Linked DNA regions of Homo sapiens: region 2 is linked to region 1. Evidence: fine-mapped expression QTL. A gene starts in region 1. The other region holds a variant in brackets. All regions are shown on one strand. Distances are between the middles of the regions. Region 1 holds the start of FBXL3 (F-box and leucine rich repeat protein 3). Region 2 overlaps SCEL (sciellin).

The links. PIP is the estimated chance that this variant, and not a neighbour inherited with it, causes the effect.
Region 2: its variant is fine-mapped to the expression of FBXL3 in whole blood (INTERVAL, PIP 0.98).

Annotation. Positions count from the first base shown.
Region 1 is chr13:77,025,886-77,028,385 of GRCh38, reverse strand. FBXL3 (F-box and leucine rich repeat protein 3) reads left to right here and starts at 1,227. Exons shown (of 5, transcript NM_012158.4): 1 at 1,227-1,559. RefSeq lists silencers at 1,107-1,156, 1,327-1,606, 1,627-1,686.
Region 2 is chr13:77,608,545-77,611,568 of GRCh38, reverse strand. SCEL (sciellin) reads right to left here. Exons shown (of 33, transcript NM_144777.3): 21 at 2,452-2,511; 22 at 1,463-1,522. Among named protein-coding and RNA genes, the nearest start is that of SCEL-AS1, 3.5 kb to the right of the region's middle. The variant G/A (reference allele first, on the strand shown) is at 1,435.

The DNA of each region.
Region 1 (2,500 bases):
TGGGCTCCAGCCATCCTCTCGATTCAGCCTCCTGAGTAGTAGCCGGGATTACACCAAGCTCGTCTGATTTTTTAAAATTATTACTCTTCTATTTTTTTGTAGAGACAAGAGTCTGGACATATTGCGCAGGCTGGTCTCCAATTCTTGACCACAAGCAACCCTTCTGCCTTGGCTTCCCAAAATGTTGGGATTACAGACATAAGCCTGTACCACTCCTGGCCTCACACTGAACTTCGACGTAACTTTATACATGGCTTCCTAGCTCAATTTCTTGAGAAAACGGGAAGAACGGAGAGCTCCCTGGGCACCACTGCTTTTCAGTGTCTTATACATGGGTCTGAGTGTTCTAAGACATCTTTGAATGGAAAACTACTTTCTCTCTTTTTTTTTGGAGGTGTAGAGAGGAATGGCGCATGATTCAACTTAATGATATTGCACCTAAGAATGTTTCTAACTGTAAGAAAACGCAGTATCAAAAAATCCAAACTTTAAAACAAGTCAACTAGGTAGCAGTTACAAAGATGCCTTGATTTACAAAAGGATTCACCAGAGGTTTTCTTTTCAGCAGCTTTGTAATCCTTTACTTTCCCCATTGCGTTTCAAAAGCTATTTACAAATTTCAGGACTCTATTTCATAAAGCAAATGTCGTTTTTAAAATGTAATAACTCTAATGATAAAAGCCACTTTAGAAATATTGGGAAATACAAATATTTGAAAAACAAAAACCATGTGCAATCCCAGCGTTAATACTCTCACTATTCTGGTACATTTCCTTGGCATCTTTTAAGCACCACTTATGCACATCGATGCGCGGGTCTTCGGAGACTGTATTTAACTCCTCGGTTTCAGGCATCCGGGGCGGCCACCCGCGGGCCGCGGTCCCCAGCAGGCTCCGGCGAGACTCCTTCCTTTCTTTTTTCTGCTCCACCTCCCTAAACCTTCCAGTTTCAGCCACAGATAGTCTCTTCCACATATAGCTAGCTTCAGCCCTCCCACATTCCATCTCAAAACAACAAAAAAAATCCCCTTCAAGCGGGAGTCACATCTCTGGCAGGAAGGCAGAGGCTCGTCCCACAGCAAGGAGACTGGGGCGGCCGCAGCGCGCGCTCCCGCTTGGGCGCGGCCCTACTCCCGCCGGGCTCCGCCCCCCCCCCGCCCCCTTCCCGCCCCCTTGGGCGGGGACGCGCCAGGGAAGCGCGCGGCCGCGAGCCCTGGGCGCCATTTTAGACTCGCTGTTTGTGGCCCAGGTGCAGGAAGCTTACGCGGTGGCAGCCGCTCGCTGAGGTAGTCTCTCGCGGCGCCGGGGATCCCTGAACACAGACAGCGCGGGACTGAGAAGGAAAGCTTCTTTCTGGGCAGCCAGAGCCGCAAAGGTGGAGCCGCGTTGGCGCCCTCCGCGGGACCAGCGCCTCGGATGCGGGCGGAGCGCGGGGGGCCGCGGCTGCGGGAGCGCGAAGCGGGGGGCCAGGGGCGCCTCATGTGAGAGCCGCGGGACCTGCAGCCGCCGCCGTCCCCGGAGCACGGGGTGGTGTGTGGGGGAAGCCGCCCCCGGCAGCAGGTAACGGCGGAGGGGCAGGGCCGAGCCCCGCTGCGACGGCGGAGCCGGGGAGGGACCGCGGACCGTCTGTGGGCGGGCCGGGGTGGGGTGGGGTGGGGGGGGGCGCGGGGGCCGGGGCGCGCGCGGGCCGCTCCTCAGGAGTGCCGGGCGGGGCGCGGGGCGCGGCACCCAGACCTTGGAGCTTGCTTGGGGGCGTTTCCCCGCCGTGCCTGCTTCCAAACATGTCAACAAGGCGTGGTGCGTGTGCGGCGGCCGCCTGCAGCCTGCCCGCGACGCCGCCGCTCCCGGGTTCGCCGCGGCTCCTGCCAGGCTTTATGACCCTTGGCGGGGGCTGGTGACAGGCACCATGGAGCTCGCACTCTGTGGGCTCTCCCGGCGTCGGCTACGCCCGTGCTGGTAGCTTGAGCAATGAGGCACTGAAATGTCAAAGCAAACTGCCCAGGGTGGGGCGCATGAGAAATGTCAGGGGAAGCCAGTCGGTGGGGAGGTGGCGCAGGGAGGAGGGGACGCCCCTGCCGCTTAGCCAGGCGAAAAACTTGGTCAACTTGTGTTGAGCGGATTCGCGTCTGCCTTTGGCGTGGGCAGTCCTTTAGGTGGGGTTGCAGACAGGGGTCAGGAAGCAGCCCAGTAAATGGTCTGTATCTCCAAGCTGAGAGGTGAGAGAGATCATTTTTATTTTGTCGTTGCTAATGATATCCAGTTGAGTGACCCAGATTTTTTAATTAGAATCCTCCTTTTCTAACTTGAAAAAAAAGTAACTTAGTTTCTGTTATCTCTGAAATATTTATAAAAATACCATCAACTATCAGTTATCTATCTATCTATATGACCTGTAGACAGATTTTCGCCACTGTGCGCTCTCTAAGCATTTAGTTGTGAGTTAACCTCTTTATAGTGTTTTATTCTTGTAGTTCAGCCAAAGAATGCATATTAGTTTGATA
Region 2 (3,024 bases), 580 kb before region 1:
ATCTTCACCTTTAGAAACTAAGTCATCTCGGGAGAGGGAAAAGGCAACTGTCTTTCACTGAATCTTAATGTGTAATGTAATTATATGGTCTCTGGATTTAGTGTCTGACCCTCAACAGTAAAAATAAAGTTGTATTAATATATGCCAAATCAGGGGGGTGGTAGGCTGTATTTCAGAATCCACTTCAACTACAGTCAGATTTGATTCTCTTCACACACTCAAATAAAATACTGTGTAGTCTAGGGGTCAGCAAACTATGGCCCTCAAGCTAAATCCAACTTGCAGCCTGCTTTTGTAAATAAAGTTTTATTGAAACGCAGCCATGCCCATTTGTTCACAAGGTACTTATGGCTGCTTTCACACTATTGGCAGAGATGACTAGTTAAAAACAGAGACAATTTTGTCCCTGAAACCAGAACTATTTACTATTAGCCCATTAAGAAAAAGTTGCTGACCTCTGATCTAGTCTAAATAAGCTCTGTTTGATAGCCACATACTGTAAAATAGACTGTATTCCAATATGCAAAATAAGATAGGAAATCTGCTGAGAGAAGATATATATCTTGGTATCTTTTACATCTAACTCATGTTCAAATTCATATAACAATATACATTTACAAGCTGGTGGTTTTGTTATGCCTGTTTATTTACTTAACATGATATGTCTTAGAGAAGATTCTTTCTATATAAAAGACAAATGTCATTCTTTTTTCAATGAACTGAGAATAATTTTTTAAATGACTTCCCAACTTTAAGAGTTGTTTGGGTGGTAGACAATAAGAAGAGAGGTAATACATGATGGAAGAAGAAGGAGGAAGAATTTTTTATCATATGAAGACCTTTCTTTAGGCTACTTAGATCAGGGAAATTGTTTGGGGTGATGTTTTGTCTCATGGGGAATCCCCATTAATTTTTAAGGAAATCCTCAGCATGGAACACAATCTCATACTGGTAAGAGATCATTCCTGTCTTTCAAGGAATTCTCTCTCCTGTGGCCAGAGAGCCTTCGGTAAGTGCTTGAACACTAGATTTCTGACACAGGATCTGTTGATTTGGGTCCCATCATTGGTTGTCTCTATGGCGGGACAATGCAATTTATCTTTTTTTTTTTTTTTTTTTGACGGAGTCTTGCTCTGTTGCCCAGGCTGGAGTGCAGTGGTGCCATCTCGGCTCACTGCAACCTCCACCTCCTGGGTTCATGTCATTCTCCTGCCTCAGCCTCCCGAGTAGCTGAGACTACAGGCACCCACCACCACGCCCAGCTAAATTTTTGTATTTTTAGTAGAGACAGGGTTTCACCATGTTAGCCAGGATGGTCTCCATCTCCTGACCTTGTGATCCTCCCGCCTCGGCCTCCTAAACTGTTGGGATTACAGGCGTAAGCCACCGCACAATTTGTCATGTTTTTAAGCTCATTAGGAAAAAAAAAGGGGG[G/A]AGAAATAGAGAGTTCCATAAACCTTACCCTTGGTTAGTTCTGTTTCTTTCAGGAGTCACTTTAATGAGGCTGTCGAGACTTTGGCCCCTTAAAAACATAGAAAATCAGATCAGTGGTAGATTTAAATCGAATGGTTTCAAGTGTTTGTTAAAACAGAGAAATACTTTTATTATAAAATATTTATTAAAATAATAAAATTAGAGATCATCTCAGAGGGCTGGGGGTTTTCAGTGTTGACTGTGAATATACATATAGGGACCTAACTAAAACTGGAGAGAAATAATGAATAAGAACTTCTAGAAAATGTTTGATGTCCCAGGCCAGGCACTCTTCTTAGTGATTTACATGATTTGTCTAATTTAATACTCACATCAATCCTATGACATAGGAAGTATTATTATTCCAGTTTCATAGAGGGAATAACTGAGACACAGAAACCTTAAGTAATTTTCCCACATGGCTAGTGGTAACAGAGGTGGGATTTAAAGCTAGGTAATCTGGCTGCAGAATGCCTGTGCCTTACCATGACACCAAATATCTATTGGAACTTAGTAACTGAATTAGATTTGGGAGTGTTGGGAGAGCTCCTCGTGCAATTTCCTCACTTTGAGGATGAGAAACTGAAGCCCAAACAGAAGTGACTAGTTTGAGCACACACAGGTAAGAGGAGCAGAGACAGGCCTAGACCCACAACTATGGGGTCCGGTCTAGTTCTCTTTCCCCTCTACTGTGTCATCCATCCCTTCTGCTTAAGAAAAATAATAAATCAATGAATAAAAATGTCCAGTCCATCCTGGGAAAACAACTTTATTCCTGATTAGTCAAAGAGTAATTGTCTCATTGTATCAGAAATTGGTTGACCAAAATTTTTAACATTTCAGATGTGAGGTAGCAGGGTTACATGGCTTTTCTTGAAGGATCATTGGGTTCAGCATCAGTCAGCTGAAATGATGCTTTAATTATACTTTTAGGCATTGGTTACTATGAAACAAAAAAGGGAGCTTATTAAATCTTACCCTTCAGTACTTTTTTCTGTTCCTGGATACACTTTGATGAAGTTATTAAGGTCTTTGGAACTTCAAACAAAAAAACAAAAAACATCATAAATAAAAATGGAATTAAATCAATTGACTGTTTTGATTTAAAGGATACATGTACTCAAGATAAATTTTACTACTGAGTTTTGAGATAAATTGATACCAGTCTATGCTCTTAATTTAAAAGACTAAAATTTGTGACCTTCTTACCAATCACTGGTACACTGACGTAGTTTCTCATTTACCCCCAAAATAAAACCATATAATTAGAGCAAGACGCCATTAAAAAAAATCAGTTAATGAGTGACATAATAATCTGCTAAAAATTCTCACCTGGTTCCCCTAAGCATTCCATCTAATGCTATAGCTATAACTAAACTGTTTTGTTAATAATTTCCATTTGTAATATCCTTTTTTAAAAAATGGATTTTATACCCATTATTTCATTCATTCCTAACAACTATCAAGTGACAAAAAACAAATATTATTATTATTTTGGCATGGTGTTTGGCTCTGTCGTCCAGGCTGGAGTGCAGTGGCTGGATCTTGGCT